3 linked regions of the Homo sapiens genome follow. The protein of the gene in region 2 interacts with the protein of the main gene of each other region in a pairwise test. Each region holds a gene or a part of one and is shown on either strand. Other genes may lie near its edges.

Region 1 (7,538 bases), on a different chromosome or scaffold from region 2:
CATGCCACTGCCCTCCAGCCTGGGTGACAGAGCAAGACTTTGTCTCAAAAAAAAAAAAAAAAAAAGAATAAACAAGGCCAGGCGTGGTGGCTCACACCTGTAATCCCAGCACTTTGGGAGACTGAGGTGGATGGATCACTTGAGGTCAGGAGTTCGAGACCAGCCTGGCCAACATGGCGAAACCCCATCTCTACTAAAAATACAAAAATTAGGCCGGGCATGGTGGCTAACACCTATAATCCCAGCACTTTGGGAGGCCGAGGCAAGCGGATCACTTGAGGTCAGGAGTTCGAGACCAGCCTGGCCAACATGGCGAAACCTGTCTCTACTAAAAATACAAAAATTAGCCAGGCGTGGTGGTACATGCCTGTAATCCCAGCTACTTGGGAGGCTGAGGCAGAAGAATCACTTGAACCCGGGAGGCAGAGGTTGCAGTGAGCCGAGATCATGCCACTGCACTCCAGCCTGGGCTACAAGAGCAAAACTCTATCTCAAAAAAAAAAAAAAAAATTAGCCAGGTGTGGTGGCACCATGCCTTATGCCTGTAGTCCCAGCTACTCCAGAGGCTGAGGCAGGAGAATCGCCTGAACCTGGGAGGCATAGGTTGCAGTGAGCTGAGATCATGCCACTGCACTCCAGCCTGGGTGACAGAGCGAGACTCTGTCTCGAAAAAAAAAAAAATTGTGGAAGGGACCGATTAAAAGTTTAGTGAGTAGAAAAATTTTGCATGCTAAAGTTTTGCTACTAAGTGTTGTCAAGGAGACAGAAGTGTAGCAGAAAGAATATGGAGTCAGACATATTTGTGTTCAAATTCCAGCCCTGTCAGTTATAGTTACGTGTACTTGGGCAAGTTACTTAAACTGCATTCCTCCTCAGTTTCCCATGTGTAAAACGAAGTTCTGTAAGGATTAACACAAATTAAAACCTAGTTCAGTGCCTGGTACACAGTAGGCACTAGATGAACAGTCCCTGTTGCTATTAGAATACCTGGAGTAGGGCCAGGCGTGGTGGCTCACGCCTCTAATCCCAGCCCTTTGGGAGGCCGAGGCAGGAGGATCACTTGCGGTCAGCAGTTCAAGACCAGCCTGGCCAACATGGCGAAACCCCGTCTCTATTAAAAATACAAAAATTAGCCAGGCATGGTGGCATGTGCCTGTAATCCCAGCTACTCGGGAGGATGAGGCAGGAGAATTGCTTGAACCCAGGAGGCGGAGGTTGCAGCGAGCCGAGATTGCACCATTGCACGGCAGCCTGGGCAATAGAACGAGACTCCATCTCTTAAAAAAAAAAAAAAAAAAAAAAGAATACCCTGAGTAAAGAGCGATTTCATTCAGAATCCCTAAGACTCTTGGGTAATGCATTGAATGTCTCCAAAACCCCACAGCAGACAGCCCTTATGCTGTACTAGTCATGCCCAAGCTCCCTCAGGTAACTAAGTTCTCCAGCACTGACAATTTCCTGCTTTTATCATATTCTGAAGGACCTAAATTCCATTCTCCCCCAAAGACATGATTTCACATAGTTCTTATATAGACAAGTGTTTCTCATGTTTTGCTATTCACTTTTCTTTCTTCAGTTTGGACTTTGCCAAACTTGGAATCTGGAAATCATAATTTCTCAATAAGATTTCAAAGCCCAAGTAGGAGACCACAATTTCTCATTCAATTCACTCCTTCAACAATGAAAGCACATACACTCTTTTAGTTCTTCAATGCTGTTTGAGCAGGATGCTGTCCACAGAGAATATTCTGGCCTTTTAGTCTGAGAAGAAAACATAAGGAAAACTAGAAAATGATTCTCAAACTGTTTTGCCTATAACCACTTCAAGTGGGCAAAAGATCCTGCAAACCAAGTACTCTATCTGCACATTCCATCCTTGCATTATGGGCTAAGCACTAGAGAGTAAAGTCCTCTATCATGCATGCTGGAAGAAGCCACTCCTGGGCAATTCTGAAATGTCATGTATTAAAGTAACTACAGACCAGGGTCAGAATCCAAAAGGGTAATCTAGGACAGAAAGGGCAAAAAGCCATTCATATACAAAGTACCTAAACGAGAGTCAATAAATACTGAAATAAACATTCTGGATACTTCAAATCTAAAGGATCCACATAGAATGAAAGCAGTGACTGACAAGGCACCAATCCCAGGGCCAGGCCAGGTTTCAAGGCGAGACAGCACGTAGTATCTGCGAAAACTTAAGCATAAAACATTTCTCTCCTTCAGATGCTGATCCGACACAAGTTAGGAAAGCGCTCGGTCTCAAGGAGACTCCCTTTCTTATTTCTGCTCCCACAAGCCTACTGTCTGCCTTTTCTGGAATCTACCTTCCCTTTAATTCAAGGCTTTGCTTTACTCCATTATCCCAGGGAGACCTCATTAGAAAGCAGCCGGCCTTCCTGCCCTCCCTCTTCAGACTTCTCACAACCTAGTTTAGTTATGGAGCTCAGCGATATATCGCCTTGGCTTTCCATCCCCCAGCCCTCTTCCATCCTCCCTCCCTTCCTTCAGTCGCTACAGCCGTGATTCCTATCTCCTTGAATTCCTCACTCTAATCTTTTTCCATCCACCCCACCCTATCCAGCCATGCTTCACTTCCTCATGGGTAGCTTTCCTGCATCCCCGTCCGATGTCTCCCTCAGGAGTTTTCTGCATCCTCCGGCCACAACTGAATCGGCAGACCTCGTTCCAAGCCTATTATACCCCTAACCCCCAAATGACCCCTAAGGCGTCTTCCCCGCCGTTAGTTGCCCCCGCGGTAGCCTCCCTCCCCCCTCCCGCTCGCGCCGCCCGGTCCTCCCTCAGCTGTCTCCCTCACCCCGTGACTCACCCGCATGCGAACCTCATAGGTGGTGAAGCGCGCGCGTCCCACGCCCACCGTCTGAGGATTAAAGATGTCGATCTCCAGGAAGTTACTTGGCGGCCCGTAAGCGTCGGTCAGGTCCTGCGGCTTCGAGTTAAGGCGCCGGGTATCAGCTACTGCCGTGTCCGACATCTTTCCGAAGGAGAGCCTGGGACCGGGGAAAGGGGGTGGGGGACAGAGGCCTGAGGCAGGAGCGCGCACGGCCCCTCCCGCTTGCAAAATAACTAGCCAACCCACAGGCGGCGGCGGCGCGCACGCGCGCCCACGCACGCACGCGCACGCCGCACGGGCCTGGGCCCCGGGCTCTGAATAGCGGCCGTGCTGACTGCTGCGCGCCCTGTAGAGTGGAGGCCATATTCAGGCTTCCGGGTGATGTTTGTGGCCACCCGGGAACCTGCATCCCCAATACGCAGTACCCAATACCCTGCCTAGCAGCACAGGCTGGCTCCGCCAATCGCGGCTCCTCAACCCAAGAAATTGTCTCGTACCGTGTATCAATCAACAGTGGGCACTGCCCCGTGAGCCAGGCTCCTACAGTGATAGGCCGAAGCCCAGTGACCTGAATAAGTCCTGGTTTTCCGCGAAAATAGAAGGGTGGTCTATGGAGGGTGGGGTTCCAACAATAGTACTGAGAACCTATAACGTAGCCGTCCCACCTGTGCCACTGATGGTTTCAGTTCACGCCACACACAATGGCGCACTCAGCACTACGTATGGCGCCAGGAAAGCAGCAAGCAACTAGGATGGGGTAAAGAAAGACATTTCTCTCTTACTTTTCAGGAAAATTGGGCATATCTTACTCCTTGTTGCCACACTCCAGGTGTACTCAATCTTACATTTATCAGCAAATTGAGGGTACTTATTTCATACCTTCTATTTCTACTCCGCAGAACTCCATACTTGGCACTGCTCTGAGGTTGCTTGCAACCCATAATGGAGATAGAATAAATGTTTACATGAGAATATCTATAGAAATATTAATATTTATATGACTAATTTACATATGCTCCACATTAAAGGGTAGACTGGGTGATGATTTCAGGTCATCCTTTCTCCACCTTTCCCCTGCCCTCCTCTACTCAAAAAATATTTCCCATATCACTGATGCCTGAAATTCTTTCAACAGAGTATGAGGCCCTACAATTTCACAATTGCTGTTTAATTCAATTTAACCAATATCCACTAAGCAAATACGTGCCAAGCACCATGCTAAACACTAAAATCCTGGAGTTAAATAAGAGTCCCTGCCCTCAAGGAGTTAACATTCTAGCAAGGGAGACAAGTAAACAAAACTAATATAATGCGACAAATACAAAATAAGTAAATGTTCAAAGCAGCACATAGGAAATGTATAACTGGAAAAATTAGGGGAGGTTCCCCTGGAGGAGGAAACATCTGAGTTTAACAGACATGAAAAGACATAAAGGACAAATAGGAGTGGAAATAGGGAAAGGTAATTTCTGGAATAAGAAACAGCATATGCAGGCCGGGCGCGGTGGCTCACACCTGTAATCCCAGCACTTTGGGAGGCCGAGGCAGGCAGATCACTTGAGGTCAAGAGTTCGAGATCAGCCTGGCCAACATGGTGAAACCCTGTCTCTATTAAAAATACAAAAATTAGCTGGGCATGGTGGCACACGCCTGTAATCCCAGCTACTCAGGAGGCTGAGGCAGGAGAATCGCTTGAACCCGGGAGGCAGAGGTTGCAGTGAGCTGAGATCATGCCACTGCACTCCATCCTGGGCAACAGAGCAAGACTCCATCAAAAAAAGAAAGAAAGAAAAGGAAAAGAAAAGAGAGAGAGAGAGAGAGCGAAAGAAAGAAAGAATACACAAAGTCCTTGCGATAAGAAACAGTGGAGCATTTTTAGGCATTTATCGCCAATTCAGACTGTGTGATGGAAGTGTTTAGAAAGGTAGACTGGCTAGGGATGGGCAGACAAAGGATGATCCGCTTATATTAAGTAAAGGATCTCTGACTTCATGATAGGTGATACAAAGCTTTCTGGTAGGTGATAGGGAGTCCCTGAAGGATCCTAAGCAGGAAAAATACATGATCAGATTTATGTTTTAGAAGAATTGTTTTGTAGACAACATGGAAGGTATATTTAAGTTGAATTATGAAGGTATTGACAATAAGACTCCGAATCAAGTGGTGATGGTGACAATGGAGAGGAGGGAAGAGATAGGAAAGAGATTGAAGAAATAAAATAGATACGACTTGTACGTGATTAGATATGGTGGTAGTATAGTGTAGGGCTTAAATGTGTGACCCATGAACTTAGGCTGCCTGGGTTTAAATCCTTGCTTTCTAGCTGTATAACCATGAGCAAATTATACAAACAGTTTTCCTCATCTGTAAAAAATGAGTTCAGTTTAGATAAATATGGGGTGTCTGTAGAACATCCAGGTGGAGATGTCCAGCGAGTAGCTGGAAATACTGGCCTGGAGCTCGAGGGCGAGGTCAGGGTTAGAGAGATAGAGATATGAGAGTCATCAGCATACCATGTAGAAAGAAAAACATGAAGAGGCAAGGACAGAAGATTTGAAAGTTGGTGAGGGCATGCAGTTTTGGTAGGAATGTGAATCGGTACAATCTTTCTGGGAAATAGATTGGCAGTATGTATTTTTTTTTTAAACTTTGACTTGAAGAAACTTGTAATACTGGTTGTCTCTGGAGAGCAGAACTGGAGAAAAGAAGTCACAGACGGCAGGGAGGGTTGTTTTTCATTAACTGTGTTTAAGTATAATGCCTTTGTATTTTTTATTTTTAATGTTATTTACCAAAATCTTTAACTCAAAAGTTTTACTTCCAATAATTTATCCTCAGAAAATAATCAGATAATCACATAAAGATACCAGTGTAAGGTTCTTGTTTTTAAGAGCAAATAATTGTTCATTTTCTGCAATATTTGTGTAGTCTTTTTTTCTAATTTGTGAATTTGCTTATATAACAAGTATTATAAAGGGGTAGTGGATTTTATATTTTACAAGGCTTTTTATCTTAGTCACTTCCATCATAAATTTCACTATCTTGTGTAAATGGCCTAATTTACAGTTCCCCTATCTATCCATTTAAAATAATTTCTTATGCTTGTTGATACAGAATGATGTCCATGAAAAAGTGAAAAAAGCTGGCAAAAAATATTGTAGTATGATATCACTTGTATTAATGTATATTTTATATATAATAATTAATATAAATAATTATAATTATAAATAATATAATGTAATATATAAATAATATAAACATATAATTATATATAATTAAATATAAATAATTATATATTTATATAATTATTATAGTTTATATTATATATAATTATTATATTTATATATTAATTTATATATATATTTATATTTATATATATTATATATAAATATATAATATTTATATATTATATATATAAATATATAATATTTATATATATTATATATAAATATATAATATTTATATATTTATATTTATATATCTATATCATTATATATAATTATTTATATATAAATATATTTATATATAAATATATAATATATAGATATATAAATATATATATAAATATATATTTATATATATAAATAATTATTTATATATAATTTTTAAAGTCTGGAAAGACATGCACCAAAATGTAGCAGCGGTTACCTCTGTGTGGTGGGGTTTCAGTTGGATTTTATATTTTTATAATTTTCTAAAGGATCTGATTTTTTAACAATAAACTTACATTTATTTTTTAACCAGAAAATGTAAAACTATTTCCATTTGGGAAAACCATTAAAGGGCAGGCACAGAAAAGAACAGCTTGTGGGCCGGGCACGGTGGCTCACGCCTGTAATCCCAGTACTTTGGGAGGCCAAGGCGGGCTGATTGCCTGAGTGCAGGAGTTTGCGACCAGCCTGGGCAACACGGTGAAAACCTGTCTCTACTAAAATACGAAAAATTAGACGGGCGAGGTGGCATGTGCCTGTAGTCCCAGCTACTTGGGAGGCCGAGGCAGGAGAATTGCTTGAACCCGGGAGGCGGAGGTTGCAGTGATCCGAGATCGAGCCACTGCACTCCAGCCAGGGCAACAGAGCAAGACTCCATCTTGGGGAAAAAAAAAAAAAAAAGCTCGTGAAGGAGATCAGGAAGGAGTGGTCAGAGAGGTAGGAAGAGAGCCAGAAGACAATAATGATCTGAAGACAACGAATAAAAATGTTTCTCAAAGGAGCAAATAGGTGGTTAATAGTGTTTAATATAGTAGAAAGGTCAAATAAGATAAGCCCTGAGAAATGTCCACTAGATTAAATAATTACTTAAATGAGAACAGTTTCAGTAGAGTCCTGGGAGTAGAATCCAGATCATAGTGAATTGAGAATTGAATCAGAGGTAAAGAAGTGGAAACATTTAGTAGAGAATCTTTTGAGAAACTTGCCTAAGAAAGAAATGTTGTAGCTAGAGAGCCATGCATAGTCAAAGAAGGATTTGTTTTTTAGGATAGGAGAGATTTAAATATGTTTAGCAGCTAGAGGGACCAATTCCATAGAAAGTTAAATATATAGGTGAGTGACAAGATAAGGCTTAAAATCAAATGGCCCTAGGAGAATTGTGCAAGTTAAATTCACAATGAGGTGTAAATAAATGATAAATGATCTTTGAGGGAAAATTTTGATAGGGTGAAAAGAAGAGGACAGTAGAGGGT
Region 2 (4,539 bases):
GGAGTTTGAGACCAGCCTGGCCAACGTGGCGAAACCACCTCTCTACTAAAAATATAAAAATTAGCTGGGTGTGGCGGCACATGCCTGTAATCCCAGCTACTCGGCAGGCTGAGGCGGGAGAATTGCTTGAACCGGGGAGGCAGAGGTTGCAGTGAGATGAGATCGCGCCATTATATTCCAGCCTGGGCAACAGAGAAAGACTCCATCTCAAAAAAAAAAAAAACATGCCTATTAGGAAAAGTATATTAAAGACCCTATGTGTAACATCTTTAATGTTTTTAAATTCTACTTTATAATAGATTTTATACATGTTTACTATAAATAGATTAGGAAAAATAAGCAAAAATAAAATAAAATCACTGTGACCATATCACTCAGAGACAACCCCAATTAACGTTTTTATTTATATTCTTTCGGACTTTATATATACATAATATTTATATGTTTTTCGTCCTTTACAAAAATAGAATTATGGTGTATATACTCTGAATGACTAGATGAGAACATCTGGATCAAAAGCATTAATGTAAGAGCATTCAGGATAAACTCAAAATGGAGAATAGTTAGTGGTATTGAGCCAGGCAAAATAACGCAATTCTTATCTAACTGGAGACTTTTCTTCTAAGAGGTTATTACGTTGTTTTTCCTCATCACAAATCTGAGGCAATATCATACTTTCTTCAGTTCTTAGAAAGAGACTTTTAGATGAAGTTTTTTTTGTTTGTTTTGGTTTTTTTTTTCTTGAGATGGAGTTTTGCTCTTGCTGCCCAGGCTGGAGTGTAGTGGCTCGATCTCAGCTCACTGCAACCTCCACCTCCTGGGTTCAAGCAATTCTCCTGCCTCAGCCTCCCAAGTAGCTGGGATTACACGTGTCCGCCACCACACCTGGCTAATTTCGTATTTTTAGTAGAGAAAGGGTTTCACCATGTTGGTCAGGCTGGTCTTGAACTCCTAACCTCAGGTTATCCACCTGCCTCGGCCTCCCAAAGTGCTGGGATTATAGGTGTGAGTCACCACACCCGGCCCTAGATGCAGTTTTATACATGCATTTGTATTACACATAAATAGCATGCATATTCTGCCAGAGCATCTACAACTTTAAATCTACATGTGAATGTGAAAATAAAACCTCATTAAATTAGTAAATAACTCTAGCTGCTTGTAAAGCACGTCCAGTCGTATTTTTTATATGTTACAAGACTTTATCTGAGAAAGCCTAATGAAGCATTCCTTGTCTGATTATAGGATTACTGACAGAACAGTTATTTAGACAGAGAATGTTCAGATGCGTTTTATTTTTATTTTTTACTTTTATTTATTTTTGAGACAGTCTCGTTCTGTTGCCCAGGCTAGAATGTGGTGGCGTGATCTCGGCTCAATGCAACTCTGCCTCCCGGGTTCAAGTGATTCTTGTGCCTCAGCCTGACAAGTAGCTGGGATTATAGGTGCCCGTTACCATGCCCAGCTAATTTTTCTGTTTTTAGTAGAGACGGAGTTTCACCATATTGGCCAGGCTGGTCATTGAACTCCTAACCTCAGGTGATGTGCCTGTCTCAGCCTCCCAATGTGCTGGGATTACAGGCATGAGCCACAGCACCCAGCCAGATGCATTTTTAAAAACGTACCTGAACTTTATCTAGGAGGTAATTATAAATTAGACTAATAATCTTCTACAGTTTCTTTCTTCTGTGATTAAAATCAATCAAATCAAAGATTCTCTTTCTCACACCTTCTGCTAACTCCTCAGAAACCTCATATCACAAGAAATGAAATGGAACAGGCCTTTCGTTTGATACATTTTAGAATAAGAAATCCTCTAAATTTAGAAGTCATTTGGCCCAGTCCTCCAAAAATGATGCACCTTATTGGGACGGGGCTAAATAGTTGCTCCAGTGTCTTCCATTCCTACAAACCTGCCATTCTCTGATCCATTATACACATCTCCCCTGGGTTTATTCTCACAACCTTTGTTCTGAAATTCCATTTGAAGGCTTTTTCCATCCTAAAACCAGTGGGGGACAGGCGGGAATTGTAAAACACTCAGAAGATAATAAATTGCCCTTTTTCCTGTGCTTTTTCTCAGAAACTGGGCGAATCTACAGAACAAAGAACGGCATGTGAATTCTGTGAAGAATGAAGTGGAGGAAGTAACTTTTACAAAACATACCCAGTGTTTGGGGTGTTTCAAAAGTGGATTTTCCTGAATATTAATCCCAGCCCTACCCTTGTTAGTTATTTTAGGAGACAGTCTCAAGCACTAAAAAGTGGCTAATTCAATTTATGGGGTATAGTGGCCAAATAGCACATCCTCCAACGTTAAAAGACAGTGGATCATGAAAAGTGCTGTTTTGTCCTTTGAGAAAGAAATAATTGTTTGAGCGCAGAGTAAAATAAGGCTCCTTCATGTGGCGTATTGGGCCATAGCCTATAATTGGTTAGAACCTCCTATTTTAATTGGAATTCTGGATCTTTCGGACTGAGGCCTTCTCAAACTTTACTCTAAGTCTCCAAGAATACAGAAAATGCTTTTCCGCGGCACGAATCAGACTCATCTACACAGCAGTATGAATGATGTTTTAGAATGATTCCCTCTTGCTATTGGAATGTGGTCCAGACGTCAACCAGGAACATGTAACTTGGAGAGGGACGAAGAAAGGGTCTGATAAACACAGAGGTTTTAAACAGTCCCTACCATTGGCCTGCATCATGACAAAGTTACAAATTCAAGGAGATATAAAATCTAGATCAATTAATTCTTAATAGGCTTTATCGTTTATTGCTTAATCCCTCTCTCCCCCTTCTTTTTTGTCTCAAGATTATATTATAATAATGTTCTCTGGGTAGGTGTTGAAAATGAGCCTGTAATCCTCAGCTGACACATAATTTGAATGGTGCAGAAAAAAAAAAAGAAACCGTAATTTTATTATTAGATTCTCCAAATGATTTTCATCAATTTAAAATCATTCAATATCTGACAGTTACTCTTCAGTTTTAGGCTTACCTTGGTCATGCTTCAGTTGTACTTCCAGTGCGTCTCTTTTGTTCCTGGCTTTGACATGAAAAGATAGGTTTGAGTTCAAATTTTGCATTGTGTGAGCTTCTACAGATTTTAGACAAGGACCGTTTTTACTAAGTAAAAGGGTGGAGAGGTTCCTGGGGTGGATTCCTAAGCAGTGCTTGTAAACCATCGCGTGCAATGAGCCAGATGGAGTACCATGAGGGTTGCTATTTGTTGTTTTTAACAACTAATCAAGAGTGAGTGAACAACTATTTATAAACTAGATCTCCTATTTTTCAGAATGCTCTTCTACGTATAAATATGAAATGATAAAGATGTCAAATATCTCAGAGGCTATAGCTGGGAACCCGACTGTGAAAGTATGTGATATCTGAACACATACTAGAAAGCTCTGCATGTGTGTTGTCCTTCAGCATAATTCGGAAGGGAAAACAGTCGATCAAGGGATGTATTGGAACATGTCGGAGTAGAAATTGTTCCTGATGTGCCAGAACTTCGACCCTTTCTCTGAGAGAGATGATCGTGCCTATAAATAGTAGGACCAATGTTGTGATTAACATCATCAGGCTTGGAATGAATTCTCTCTAAAAATAAAATGATGTATGATTTGTTGTTGGCATCCCCTTTATTAATTCATTAAATTTCTGGATTTGGGTTGTGACCCAGGGTGCATTAACTTAAAAGATTCACTAAAGCAGCACATAGCACTGGGAACTCTGGCTCCGAAAAACTTTGTTATATATATCAAGGATGTTCTGGCTTTACATTTTATTTATTAGCTGTAAATACATGTGTGGATGTGTAAATGGAGCTTGTACATATTGGAAAGGTCATTGTGGCTATCTGCATTTATAAATGTGTGGTGCTAACTGTATGTGTCTTTATCAGTGATGGTCTCACAGAGCCAACTCACTCTTATGAAATGGGCTTTAACAAAACAAGAAAGAAACGTACTTAACTGTGTGAAGAAATGGAATCAGCTTTTAATAAAATTGACAACATTTTATTACCACACTAAGTCATTATTTTGTATCATTTTTAAAGTAAATTTATTCTTAGGTCAGATTCACTCAGCATATTTTGACTAAGTAACCACTGTACTTAGTAAACCGAAGAGCTTCTGAGAATTATAGTGTACCTTATAGATATTTTTAACATTTATATTTGTATAAAGCTAAAGAAAGCCTTACATATCCTTTAAACTGACTATAGAAGAAAATGATACAGAATTTTGCCTGCATAAAGTACACAGGACTATTCTTGCCTACAATATGCTTTTTCACAAGCAAAATGTTAGACTAATATAAGGCATCTTTGGCCATTTTATAGTGTACATCATCTCTATTTCTGAGGCCTCATTGTTAGCTGTAACGCAAGTAGCATTTGTGCAATAAAATGAACTATTTGGGATGGGAGGGTACATTTTTTAGAACTTTGCTTTGGGTTGCCTTGATAATTAATAGCATATAGTCCATTTATGCAGCTAAGTAGGGATTGCTTCTTAGTACAGTCAGGAAGAA
Region 3 (7,032 bases), on a different chromosome or scaffold from region 2:
GCGCGATCTCGGCTCACTGCAATCTCCGCCTCCCTGGTTCACGCCAATCTCCTGCCTCAGCCTCCCGAGTAGCTGGGACTACAGGCGCCTGCCATCATGCCCGGCTAATTTTTGTATTTTTAGTAGAGACGGGGTTTCACCGTGTTAGCCAGGATGGTCTCCATCTCCTGACCTCGTGATCCGGCCACCTTGACTTCCCAAAGTTCTGGGATTACAGGCCTGAGCCACCACGCTCGGCCTAATTTTTGTATTTTTTAGTAGAGACGGGGTTTCACCATGTTGGCAAGGTGGTCGCGATCTCTTGACCTCGTGATCTGCCTGCCTCGGCCTCCCACAGTGCTGGGATTACAGGCGTGAGCCTCTGTGCCCGGCTTATGCAGCATTTTTCCTTCTAGAGGATTTCAGAGAAAAGTGAAATCTTGATTACACCCAGCCTGAGTCATTCATTCACATGATCACAGCGCTGGCCCCTCATACATATGCCTTTGAGTTCATGGCTGTGGATTCAGCTGGTTGTTACCTTCCTTCTGCTCACCTCTCAGGGCTCACCCGAGACAGCACTGCCTTCAGGAAGCCTTCCCTCATATCCTAGACTAGCGAGGGCAGACTTTGCTGCTGGCCAGGCCTCCCTGCAGTCATCAGATGTTATTGTAATTACTTATTCTGGAGCTGCTCCTTGCAGGACTGAATGCTCCATGAGGGAATGTCCTCTGTCTTGGTCAGAGACTCCTTCTCACCTCTAGCTCCACATCTGGCATGTAATAAGCACTTGTTAACTCTTCAGTGAATAAATGTAGGAGTCTTGTGTCCTCCACTGTCTTCCTTGGCCCCTGATGTGTGGTTCTCATCCCAGGCCTGCAGAATGATCACAAGGCAGTGATGAAGCAGGTGGAGGAGGCCCTGCACCAGCTGCACGCTCGCGACAAGGAGAAGCAGGCCCGGGACATGGCTGAGGCCCACAAAGAGGCCATGAGCCGCAAACTGGGTCAGAGTGAGAGCCAGGGCCCTCCACGGGCCTTCGCCAAAGTGAACAGCATCAGCCCCGGCTCCCCAGCCAGCATCGCGGTAATCCAGGGGTTGGCCACTCAAGTCCATGCCCAGGGGACACGGTGGGTCAGGTAGCCTTCGGGGATGTGGAAAGACAGACTAGTTCTCTCCGTGCTGCGGTGCTGAGTTCAGTTACTCATTTAACAAACACTGACTGAGGCCTGTCGTGTATCCAGCCCTGTGCTGGGGGCAGAGTTTTAGAGAGGGGTCAGCCCCGGCTGCCCACTACATTGGTGGGGGAGTGACCTCTTCCCAGTGACAGAAGATGATAAATGTCCCAAGAGAGGGAGAGGATCTCTTCTTGGGGCTCATTTTAGCTGGGCACTGAATGATGAAAATGAGAATGGCATCTTGCCAAATGAGTTATGCATCTTATGTGGTGTCTTAAAAAAAACATTAGGCTGGGCACAGTGGCTCATGCGTGTAATCCCAGCACTTGAGAAGGCTGAGGCGACTTGGAAAGCTGAGATGGGAGGATCACTTGGGCTCAGGAAGTCGAAGTTGCAGTGAGCTGTGACTGTGCCACTGCACTCCAGCCTGGGTGACAGAGTGAGACCTTGTCTTAAAAAAAATTTTTTTTTGACCGGGAGCATTGGCTCACGCCTGTAATCCCAGCATGTTGGGAGGCCGAGGCCAGTGGATCACTTGAGGTCAGGAGTTCGAGACCAACCTGGCCAACATGGCGAAACCCCGTCTCTACTAAAAATACGAAAATCATGCCACTGCACTCCAGCCTGGGCAACAGAGTGAGACTCCGTCTCAAAAAAAAAAAAAAAATTTACCCATTTAAAGTCCGTATACAGTTTAGTGTCTTTTGGTGTATTCACAGAGCCATGCATTACCACAATCAATTTTCTTTCTATTTAAAAAATTTGCAGCCAGGTGCAGTGGCTCACGCCTGTAATCCCAGCACTTTGGGAGGCTTAGGTGGGCGATCACCTTATGTCAGGAGTTCAAGACCAGCCTGGCCAACATGGCGAAACCCCATCTCTACTAAAAATACAAACATTAGCCGGGTGTGGTGACATGTGCCTGTAATCCCAGCTACTCGGGAGGCTGAGGCAGGAGAATCGCCTGAACCCAGGAGGTGGAGGTTGCAGTGAGCGGAGATCGTGCCACTACACTCCAGAGCCTGGGCGACAGAGTGAGACTCTGTCTAAAAAAAAAAAAAAAAAAAAAAGGAGATGGGGTTTCGCTCTGTTGCGTAGGTTGGTCTCCATCTCCTGGGCTCAAGTGATTCTACCACCTTGGCCTCCCAAAATGCTGGGATTATAGGCATGAGCCACCATGCCCAGCCATAATCAATTTCAGAACATTGTCATTGTCTTGTAAAGAAACTCTGTAGTGATTTGCCATCACTTCCCAATCCCCCAGCTCCCCGCACCCAGTTATCTACTTTCTGTCTCTATGTATTTGTCTATTCTGGATATTTCCTATAAGTTGAATCATATAATATGTGACCTTTTATGACTGGCTTCTTTCACTTAGCAAATTTTCAAGTCATCTGTATTGAGCATGGATCAGTGCTTCATTTGTTTACAGACAGGGTCTCACTCTCTCACCCAGACTTCAGTGCCATGGTGCCATCATAGCTCACTGCAACCTCAAACTCGCAGAGTCAAGTGATCCTCCTGTCTCAGCCTCCCAAGCAGCTAGGACTGTAGGCACATGTAACCATGCCTGGTTAATTTTTTATTTCCTTTTTTTTTTAGAGATGGGTTCTCACTATGTTGCCCAGGCTGGTCTTGAACTCCTGGCCTCAAGCGATCCTTCTTCCTCGGCCTCCCAAAGTGCTAGAATTACAGGCATGAGCTGTCATGCCTGGCCCTTCATTCCTTCTTTTTTTTTTTTTTTTTTTTTTTTTTTGAGACGGAGTCTCGCTCTGTCGCCCAGGCTGGAGTGCAGTGGCACGATCTCGGCTCACTGCAAGCTCCGCCTCCCAGGTTCACGCCATTCTCCTGCCTCATCCTCCCGAGTAGCTGGGACTACAGGCGCCTGCCATCACGTCCAGCTAATTTTTATTTTTTGTATTTTTAGTAGAGACAGGGTTTCACTTTGTTAGCCAGGGTGGTCTCGATCTCCTGACCTCGTGATCCGCCCGCCTCAGCCTCCCAAAGTGCTGGGATTACAGGCGTGAGCCACTGTGCCTGGCCCTTCATTCCTTTTTATGGCCAAATAATATTCCACTGCCTGGATATATCATATTTTATTTATCCATTTGTCAGTTAATGGACATTTGAATTGTTACCACTTTTTGGCTATTACGAAGCATGTTGCTGCGAACATTCTTGTACAGTTTTTTTGTGGAGATGTAGTTAAATTTAATTCCACAGCCACTTCTGGGATAGGTCCTAATCTTTACTCATTTCATCCTCGAGGAAAAGCCTTGCAGACCTGAAGTAACTTATGTCAGGACACATAGTTCCTGCCAGGTGGAATGGGGTCCTAAACCCTGGTCAGGACACATAGTTCCTGCCAGGTGGAATGGGGTCCTAAACCCTGGTCAGGACACATAGTTCCTGCCAGGTGGAATGGGGTCCTAAACCCTGGTCCTACCAGTCTTCTTTAATGGTCACAAGTCTGTAAGTTACACAGAAGCTCCCTATCATTCACTACCCCATCTACTGCATCTAACCCAGTGCCAGTTGGCCCACAACAAATACTTGTTACAGGGGTGAATGAGTGGTGGTCTGTCTTCTTAGGACCTAGAACAAGAGCGTCACTCTAGTCTTGGATGCGCCCTGTGCCTGTGGCTGCTTGTCTGGGGGCTTCTAGGGCAAGTGTCTTGTCTAAATGTTGATCACTGAATAAAATGGGCCCAGCCTGGCTTGCCTTCTCTTACCCTTGAACCTGGGTTAGGACCGCAGAGAGCAGCATTTGGCCTTTCCCATGCTCCTCAAGGCCTTCACAGTGTCTGGTAACTGCCAGCTCTCAGACATTGGGCAGACCTGGTCATCTTTACTAGAGCTGCCCTCAAAGGAACCCCAGGAGGAGGTGGCCCCGTTACCCACTGCCCCTTCCTGCATGAGGTGTCTACATCCCTGACCTCTTTGTTCTGAGCCTACCCTGTAGAAAACAAGCTCGTGACCTTGGCATTAAATTGGGTATTGAAGGTTAGAGACCACCAGGAGCACACTGAACCTCTAGCCTGATTTTCCATTTTTCCTTCCCTCTCCAGGGTCTGCAAGTGGATGATGAGATTGTGGAGTTCGGCTCTGTGAACACCCAGAACTTCCAGTCACTGCATAACATTGGCAGTGTGGTGCAGCACAGTGAGGGGGTGAGTGGGGCTACCTGGTGTCTCGGTCTGTTTGGGTTTTTCTAACAGTATGCCATAGACTGCGTGGCTTACAAACAACAGAAGTTCATTTTTCACAGCTCTGGAGGCAGGGAAGTCCAAGATCCAGGCACCAGCCAATTTGGTGTCTGGGGAGGGCTTGCTTCCTAACTCCTAGGTGGTGCCTTCTTGCTGTGTCCTCACATGGCAGAAAGGGGAGGAACCCTGGGAGCTCTTGTATAAGGGCACTAATCCCAGTGGGGGCGCCACCCCTCATGACCTAATCACCTTGCAGAGGCCCCACCCCTAATACCATCACATTGGTGGTTAGGATTTCAACATATGAATTTCAGGGGGCCACAGACATTCAGGTCATAGCACTCGGCCTCTGGTCTATAGCCCTGGAGTTACTGGAAGTGTTGCTGAGGCCCTGGACTGCTGCCTTCATGGTGTTGCTCAGCACAGCCCCATTCAAGGACTTGGCACCTGCTATTCCTTCTGTTTAGAATGCTCTTCCTCTTCATCCTCCTTCTGTTTTACACTGGTGACATGCTCGCAGGGGGCCTTTCCTGGCTACCCTAACCCAAATTCCCCTCTCCTCTGCCCTGTCTCTGTTTTCATTTAACAAGGTTTCTTAGAGATCTTTTCTTTTTTTTTTTTTTTTTTTTAAGACAGGGTCATGCTGTGTCACCCAGGCTAGAGTGTGGTGGTGCTATCATAACTACCTCACGGCTAATTTTTTTATATTTTGTGGAGGCGGGGTCTTGCTATGTTGTCCAGGCTGGAATTTTTGTTGTTGTTTTGTAGCAAAGATCCACACTTTTCAGGAGTGATACTGTGGCAAAGCCCAGGAAAATTATTAACTAAAGTTTTTGGTTCCCAAATGAAGTCTCCAGTTAACCCAACAGTTGTGGATTTTTTGACTCCTGCTTAGCTGCACGGTTCATCTACTTGTAACCCATCAGTGCAGGCCAGGCCAGGTCAGGTCAGGAGATGGCTGGCAGTTGCCTATGCCCCTGCTAGTGGTCAGGCCATCGTTTCTGCACTGATACTGTCATCAAATCTGTAACTTGTATGGACGTTTAAAATGATGATTTTGTGAAATTTATCAGTTTTTTTGCTTATGGCTCTTGCATTTTGTGTCCATTTAAAGAAATTCTTTTTTTTTTTTTTAATTAAGAAATTCTTGGCTGGGCGTGGTGGCTCACTCCTGTAATCCCAGCACTTTAGGAGGGCGAGGTGGGTGGATCACGAAGTCAGGAGTTGGAGACCATCCTGGCTAACACGGTGAAACCCCGTCTCTACTAAAAATACAAAAAATTAGCCGGGTGTGGTGGCACACACTTGTAGTCCCAGTTACTTGGGAGACTGAGGAAGGAGAATCGCTTGAACCCAGGAGGCAGAGCTTGCAGTGAGCCGAGATCGCGCCATTGCACTCCAGCCTAGGCGACAGAGCAAGACTCTGTCTCAAAAAAAGAAATTCTTTTAATTCTTTTATTGTTTTATTTCTGTTTTTCCTTTAGTCCATCTGAAATTTATTATTATTATTATTATTATTATTATTATTATTTGAGATGGAGTCTCGCTCTGTCACCCAGGCTGGAGTGCAGTGGTGCGATCTTGGCTCACTGCAACCTCCGCCTCCCAGGTTCAAGTGATTCTCCTGCCTCAGCCTCCTGAGTAGCTGGGATTACAGGCGCCCACCACCATGCCTGGCTAATTTTTGTATTTTTAGTAGAGATGGGGTTTCGCTATGTTGGCCAGGCTGGTCTCAAACTGGCCTCCCAAAGTGCTGGGACTACAGATGTGAGCCACTGCGCCTGGTCTATTTTTATTATTTTTACAACAGTTTTATTGAGATTTAATGCACATACTACACAGTTCACCCATTTAAAGTGGTTTTTAGTGTAGTCACAGAATTATGCAGCCATCACAATTGTACATTTTCATCACTTCTCCTCCTGAGGCAGCCACTTTCCAGCCACATGTCCTTCAGAAAGACTGCTCATATACCAGCACACAGAGCTGCCAGTTGATTTTATTTTATTAAGGTGTAATTTACCTGCACCAGATCCACCTTTTTCAGTGTACAGTCCCATGAGTTTTCTTCTTTTTCTTTTCTTTTTTTTTTTTTAGATGGAGTCTTGCTCTGTCGCCCAGGCTGGAGTGCAGTGGTGCAGTCTCGGGGGGGCTACTGCAAGCTCTGCCTCCCAGGTTCACGCCATTCTCCTGCCTCAGCCTCCCGAGTAGCTGGGACTACAGGCATGTGCCACCATGCCCAGCTAATTTTTTTGTATTTTTAGTAGAGATGGGGTTTCACTGTGTTAGCCAGGATGGTCTCGATCTCCTGACCTCGTGATCCACCTGCCTTGGCCTCCCAAAGTGCTGGGATTACAGGTGTGAGCCACCACACCCAGCCGAGTTTTCTTTTTTTTTTCTTTAAGATGGAGTTTTGCTCTTTTGCCCAGTCTGGAGTGCAGTGGCACGATCTCGGCTCACTGCAACCTCTGCCTCCCAGGTTCAAGCGATTCTCCAGCCTCAGTCTCCCAAGTAGCTGGGATTATAGGTGCCCACCACCACGCCCAGCTAATTTTTTTTTGTATTTTTAGTAGAGACAGGGTTTCAGCATGTTGGCCAGGCTGGTCTCAAACTCCTAACCTCAGGTGATCCACCCACCTCAGCCTCCCAAAGTTCTGGGATTACAGGAG

The links.
Region 1: the proteins of LPL (region 2) and SNX12 interact in binary tests that used the Homo sapiens proteins (3 or more experiments, as listed by UniProt).
Region 3: the proteins of LPL (region 2) and PSMD9 interact in binary tests that used the Homo sapiens proteins (3 or more experiments, as listed by UniProt).

Annotation. Positions count from the first base shown.
Region 1 is NC_000023.11:71,065,312-71,072,849, forward strand, and holds the start of SNX12 (sorting nexin-12), read right to left. Parts: upstream 3,024-7,538; 5' UTR 2,996-3,023; coding exon 2,831-2,995; intron 1,757-2,830; exon of another isoform or gene 1,695-1,756; intron 1-1,694. UniProt on the Homo sapiens protein: May be involved in several stages of intracellular trafficking.
Region 2 is NC_000008.11:19,963,227-19,967,765, forward strand, and holds the end of LPL (lipoprotein lipase precursor), read left to right. Parts: intron 1-2,083; coding exon 2,084-2,084; 3' UTR 2,085-4,033; downstream 4,034-4,539. UniProt on the Homo sapiens protein: Key enzyme in triglyceride metabolism.
Region 3 is NC_000012.12:121,898,781-121,905,812, forward strand, and holds part of PSMD9 (26S proteasome non-ATPase regulatory subunit 9), read left to right. Parts: intron 1-853; coding exon 854-1,065; intron 1,066-4,225; coding exon 4,226-4,327; intron 4,328-7,032. UniProt on the Homo sapiens protein: Acts as a chaperone during the assembly of the 26S proteasome, specifically of the base subcomplex of the PA700/19S regulatory complex (RC).